Linked DNA regions of Homo sapiens. The protein of the gene in region 1 purifies or fractionates together with the protein of each later gene. This does not show direct contact. Each region holds a gene or a part of one and is shown on either strand. Other genes may lie near its edges.

The links.
Region 2: the proteins of LZTS3 (region 1) and SIPA1L3 purify together in Homo sapiens (affinity purification with mass spectrometry; one large-scale study listed by BioGRID and IntAct). This does not show direct contact.

Annotation. Positions count from the first base shown.
Region 1 is NC_000020.11:3,166,946-3,170,758, forward strand, and holds part of LZTS3 (leucine zipper putative tumor suppressor 3), read right to left. Parts: exon of another isoform or gene 1,553-3,813; intron 1,360-1,552; exon of another isoform or gene 1,046-1,359; intron 1,017-1,045; 5' UTR 926-1,016; coding exon of another isoform or gene 854-925; 5' UTR 793-853; intron 237-792; coding exon of another isoform or gene 219-236; coding exon 1-218. UniProt on the Homo sapiens protein: May be involved in promoting the maturation of dendritic spines, probably via regulating SIPA1L1 levels at the postsynaptic density of synapses.
Region 2 is NC_000019.10:38,204,058-38,206,701, reverse strand, and holds part of SIPA1L3 (signal-induced proliferation-associated 1-like protein 3), read right to left. Parts: intron 2,576-2,644; coding exon 2,494-2,575; intron 606-2,493; coding exon 462-605; 3' UTR 1-461. UniProt on the Homo sapiens protein: Plays a critical role in epithelial cell morphogenesis, polarity, adhesion and cytoskeletal organization in the lens.

The DNA.
Region 1 (3,813 bases):
CCTCGGGGGCCAGGGAAACTGCCCTGGCTGCCCCCACCCCCTGTGCGGGTACCCACGCTCTTCATGGCAAACTCCTGGGCATGGGCCACCCCACTGCCCACGCTGCCCATGGCCAGGCGGGGGTCCGGGGGTCCAAGCTCGGAGGGCCGTGGGGCAAAGGCCAGGAGAGGATCCCGCCCTGGGTCAGCGCGCACAGGCAGCGTCTCCAGCTTCGCCATGACTAAGCCAGGGGGGCACTGTGGGCACAGGTGGGAAGGCAGAGATAGGTAAGACCCTACTCCTATTCCCACCACCCCAGCCAAGTCAACCCGGCACCGCTCTGCCCCTCAGTGTCCCCTTCCCTACAATGGGTACAAAAAGTTCCCAGGCATCCAAGGTGAAGGAATAAGGCTGGGATAAAAGAGAGAACTTGGGAATGGGGGCTGCCTGTTGCCCACCTGATAAAGCCCAACCCCCAGGGCTCCATGCACATAGCCCCCAGCGTTGCTCAGCTCAGCTCAGCTCAGCTCAGCTCAGCGTTCCATTCCTAAACTTCTGCCTTAGCCCCACCTCCGCCATGAGCTTCCCAGGCTCAGTGACCCTCTCAACTCTTTGCTGCAACCCCAGAATTTTGGGGTTCTTTATCTTGGGTCTGGGACCCTAATATCCCAACCTCATGGGCTGGGGAAATGGGGTTGGAAGGGGAGAGCAGTACCTGAATCCAACAGGGAACCAACCTCAGAAATTAGGGGAGGGAGAGAAATACACCCCTATCCAAAAATTGAGGGTGGGGGTCCTTCCCAGCCCCCTAACCTAAGTGTTGCAGTCAGGGCAGAAGTGGAAGCTCACTACCAGCGCAGGCTTCTCTCCTTGCCTTTCCAAGGGGTTGAGGGGCCGACGGGTCCTCAAGCCTGGGACCCTCCGAGGCCCGGTCTGCAGGGGCCATGTGCCTCACTCTCGCAGTCGGGGCTCGGCCCGAACCAGCTGCGCGACTTTGGAGGGGCCGACTGAGCCATCCCGGACTGCAGTTTTCTCCTCTGCGAAATGGGAGGAATGAAGGACCTACCTTGCGGGGCTGCCGCGTGCCAGGCGCCCCGAGGCGGCGAGCGCCTGAGGAAACGGGGGTCTGGGGGAGGGTGGGTAGGCGACGCACATCTGGGTCGCGGGTGGGCGCCGCCAAGGGCACAGCCTGTCCCTCCCGGATGGACGGGGGCCGCGGCTGCAGTAGGTGGCAGGCCTGCCCTCCCCAAGGTCTTCCCAGCTCGGCCGCACCGGGGCCCTGGGAAGACAGGGCCCCCTTCCCGGGATCAGTCCTCCGCAGAGGTCCCAGGGCTGGCTGAGGCCGGGGCAGGGGACGCAGTGGCGCCAGCTGCTGGCACTGACGGAGCCTCTCTCAGGGCCTGCGTTTCCCACAGGTGGGAGGGGGGAGGGGAGGGGAGGGGCCGCTGCAGGGTGCGCGGCCCCAAGGATCCTGCGCCTGCCGAACCCCGCAAAGAATTCACTGCCACCAGGAAGACTTCCCGGATTACTACCCTCTCCCGCTCCCTGTGGACCTTGACCCTGCTCAGCTTACCGTGAAGCCCTCTGAGTCCTTCTGTGGGTGCGCGTCCCCCTCCCCCAAGGCCGGCCCACAAGCGCAGGGGGAGCCAGGCCTCGGGTTACCTGTGCTCAGGGAGGCCGTGCTTCCTCGTTCCTTTGTCTCAAGTTCGCACCTGGGAACACCTGCCCCAGAGATCTGCATAATGCAGCCGGGCAGGAGCACCAGGCAGTGTCTGCCTCGGGTTAGACCCTCAAATAAGTGTGTGGGAAATGGGAGAGGGCGCCCTTCAGGCCTTTTCCCACTACACCCTGCATAAACCAGGCAGGGAGCCCTCCTTCCCTATCAAGTTAAGGGGCCCACGTGGCACCCTATGGCCCCACAGACCGTCTTCTACCCAGATGCCCAGTTCTAATGCTGAGTCCCTGGCCCAGACCAAGGGCACCTGACAAAACTGTTGTCCTTCGGGAGTCTTCTGGCCCCCACACCAGGAATGAGAGCTCTAGGTTGTTGGAAAGTTCACTACCAAGCCTGTCCACTGTCTCTGTAGAATTCCATTCTCAGCATCTGTCCCCACAGGTGTGGAGAAGAGCACTTCGCCACCCTCCTCCCTTGGACCCGTCTGTCCCCATAAGCAAGGGCCAGGACTAGGATGAGGACAGAGAGCCACGTAGGGCACAAATGAAGGGCACAAACAGCAAGTACACAGCCCTGAGGGTGACAGCCTCCTTCCCTTTGTGCCTTGGGTCCCTCTCTGGCCTCACTCTAGTCCCTGCTCTGCCTCTACTCCCCAGCATACTCCAGCCCCCTATGCCTCAGCCCTGCAACCCCCTCCTACCTTAAGTATGGACCCTTCTCTTGCCACCTCTGGGTGCAATGTGGGGAGCAGCTGGGGACTGGGAGGATGAAGCCTGAAAGGCCTGAGGCTTGGAACCAGTAGGAAGGCCTGGGCAGGGTTTGGGAAAGAACTGGCAAAATTTCATACAGATGAGGTCAGGTGGTGGGGACAAGGGATAATGCTGGACTGGGCACCAGCGTGCGTGTGACACTGTTAACATGATAGGGGGAGACTGCTTGGGGAAAATAGTTGCTTTGGGAAACACCAGAGGAAGATACCTCTCAAGCACTAAATGGAGGCCAAGCAAGGTGGCTCATGCCTGTAATCCCAGCACTTTGGGAGGTCAAGGTGGGCAGATTACTTGAGGCCAAGAGTTCAAGACCATCCTGGCCAAATTGGTGGAACCCCATCTCTACTAAAAATACAAAAATTAGCTGGGTGCGGTATGCATTCCTGTAATCCCAGCTACTTGGGAGGCTGAGGCACGAGAACCCCCTTGAACCCAGGAGGCAGAGGTTGCAGTGAGCTGTAATTGCACCACTGCACTCCAGCCTGGGTGACAGAGCGAGACTCTTTCCTTAAAAAAAAAAAAAAAAAAAAAAAAAGCACTAGATGGAGAGAGATTGAGATCATCAGTTTTCAAGGGTGCTGGGGGTGTAGGCCAGCACTGAGCCAGGGAGCAAAGCCCCAGAAGTCTGGAAGGCACTCTGGGAGCAGGAAGAAGGCCAGGAGAAGGTGGGCCCTGAAGGCCAAGATTGGGGGGATTCAAGAATGTGGGGACAGTTTCCAGTGTTAAAAATAACAGGGCCAGGTAACACTGGGGTTGGAGAGTGTGCTGCGGATTTAGGAGCTGGTCTCGAGACATCACCAATGTCTATGTCAGAATGGTTTCAGAAAAGTGGTACAAGTGCCGGATGCGGTGGCTCACACCTGTAATGCCAGCACTTTGGGAGGCCAAGGCAGGCAAATCACTTGAGGTCAGGAGTTCGAGACCAGCCTGGCCAACGTGGTGAAACCCCGTCTCTACTAAAAATACAAAAAATTAGCTGGGCGTGGTGGTGCGCGCCTGTAATCCCCTACTCAGGAGGCTGAGGTGGGAGAATCACTGGAACCCGGGAGGCAGAAGTTGCAGTAAGCCGAGATCATGCCACTGCACTCCAGCCTGGAAGACAGAGCGAGACTACATCAAAAAAAAAAAAAAAAAAAACAGGTTGGCGCGGTGGCTTACGCTTGTAATCCTAGCACTTAGGGAGGTCCAAGACAGGTGGATCCCCTAAGATCAGGAGTTCGAGACCAGCCTGACCAACAGGGCGAAACCCTGCCTCTACTAAAAATACAAAAAAATTAGCTGGGTGTGGTGGTGCATGCCTGTAATCCCAGCTACTCAGGAGGCTGAGGCGGGAGAATGGCTTGAACCCAGGAGGTGGAGGTTGCAGTGAGCCAAGATCGCACCACTGCA
Region 2 (2,644 bases), on another chromosome or scaffold:
CTTTCACGCTGTACTTTTCATGCAGGGGCCTCGGCCCCACAAGCCGCAACTTTGTTGTGCGTGGTGCAGAAACCTGCTGTGTGACCTCCTGGAGCCGAGGCGTCTGGAGACTGGCTCCTCTCTCCGTCCCCATCAGCTTCGAAGGGCTGGTCCCAGGAAGAGGCTAGATGGGGACAGCGGGGCAGGCCCGGGAGCGGTGTAAGCACAGCCCAGCTCACCGGGACCACAGCTGGGCAGCTTGGAGGGAGGCCTGAGACCACTTCGCCCTCTGGGGCATGAGGGCTGTGCGCGCTGACCCTGACTCACAGCCCTAGTGAGGCCATCGGAGTTTCCGTGTCCATGGGGAGGGCCCTGGATGGGTCATCTTGGTCACACCGGCAGCTGGGAGCTGAGTGGAGGGAGAGAGGCAGCAGGGCCACGGCCTGAGGGGAAGGAGCGAAGGCGGGCGGCGGCCTCCCACCTCAGAGCTCCTTCTTCTCCCTGCAGAAGATCTCCGCAAACTTGCGCAGCTGCTCGCTGGCGGCCTGCGACTCCTCCTGCAGCCGCTGGTTGTTCTGCCGCAGGCTGGCCACCTCTGACTGGAGCACCACCTTGTCCTGCTTCTCCTGCACAGGGTGGGAAGCTGGCATCAGGCGGGTGGGCTTGGCCGCTCCTGGAACAGCCGATGGCTCCCTGAGGCCTGTGAGCCCTGGCCCGGCTGTGCTTTGGAGCCAACCACTAGAGCCAGGCCAGGCCGGGGCACACATCCCACTCTGCCTCTCCACAACCGAGGGACCCTGGGCAAGTCACTTGGTTCCCGCAACTCTACCAGGAGGCTGAGGGGTGTCTGGAGCTCATCTATGTAGAGCTCCCGGAACGCAACCACATGTGGAGTCATCGCTTGACAAACATCACTATTGTCACCGCATCCCACCTTCACACTACCCGAGGACTTGGGGACTGTCGCTGTCCCTAGTTTCCTGGAAGAGGACCCCAGCCTCACACAGCAAGTGGGGAGCTGGGACATGGATGCAGGGTGGCCTGAGCAGACCCCCTTCTTCCAGGAGGACGTAGCCCCCGAAAGGCAGGGACCTGTTTCAGGTTGCGCAGCATTATGCAGTGGGGCGGGGGTCAGAACCTGGGCCCCTTTGATTCCACGGCTCGAAGACTTACGCATTATATACTCTGCCACCTTTCTGGCTTTTACCCAGAAGTATAGAAACAATAGATAAAAGTCTCCTCCTCATTTTTTTTTTTTTTTTTTTGAGACTGGGTTTTGCTCTTGTCGCCCAAGCTGGAGTGCAGAGGCATGATCTCGGCTCACTGCAATCTCCGCCTCCTGGGTTCAAGCAATTCTCCTCCCCAGCTTCCCAAGTAGCTGGGATTACAGGCGTGCACCACCACACCCGGCTAATTTTGTATTTTAGTAGAGACGGGGTTTCACCATATTGGCCAGGCTGGTCTTGAACTCCTGACCTCACCCACCTCGGCCTCCCAAAGTGCTGGGATTACAGGTGTGAGCCAACGTACCCAGCCAGTCTCCTCCTCATCCTTCCGCCCCATGGAGACAAGTCCAAAGAACAAATTGACTGTCACCTTCTAGATGGCCCTCTCAACCATGGTGGTTAAACAATAAATAAATAAGTATGGTGATATTCTAGACAACACTGCTGCAGCTCGCTTTGGTTTTTATGTAAGTTACTGGACTTCTTTTGCGTGTTAGTAAATATATAGATTTGTTATTACTTTAATTGGCTGCAAGCTGTTCCGCTGCATGGACACCCTATAATTTACACAGCCATTCTCATGTTGAGTGACAGCCACGCTGGCTCCAATTTTTTATTGCCAATAGTGTGGCAACGAACGTCCTTGTTCACAATCTCTTTGTACCCATGCTGTCACGGATAAATTCCCACAAGTGGAATTACTGGATCAACATTTTTTTTTCTTTTTTTTTGAGATGGAGTCTCGCTCTGTTGCCCAGGCTGGAGCCCAGTGGCATGATCTCGGCTCACTGCAACCTCCACCTTCCTGGGTTCAAGCGATTCTCTTGCCTCAGCATCCTGAGTACCTGGGATTACAGGCACCCGCCACCACACCCGACTAATTATTGTACTTTTTAATAGAGATGGGGTTTCACCATGTTGACCAGGCTGGTCTCGAACTCCTGACCTCAGGTGACCCACCACCTTGGCCTCCCAAAGTGCTGGGATTACAGGTATGAGCCACCGCGCCCAGCCACAGTTTTTTTGTGTTTTTTTGATAAATGTTATCCAATTGCCTTCCGAAAAGCCTGGGCTGATTATTCTCCCCCCAAGAATGGATGAGTTTCTCTGAGCGCTTGGTAGCCTGGGGTGTTATCACTGTTTACTCTTCACCCATGACTACACTCAAACACAGGAGGTGTGGGGGTGGGGTGGGTCCTGCATGGCGGGGGCAGGTGCCTGATCCCTGCTGACTGCCCTGCCCAGTGTCTGGGAAGTGGGATGGAGAGGGCGTGGCCCCCGGCCTTACCTTCTGCAGGTCAGTGTGCAGCTGTTTCAGCATCACCTCCAGCTGGTACACCTTGCCTGTCAGATCCAGGGGTGGCTCCTCGCTGGAAAAACCAGGGACAAGGTCAGCCTGAGGCCCTAAAGCCCCTGGGGAAGGCTTCTGGCCCACATCT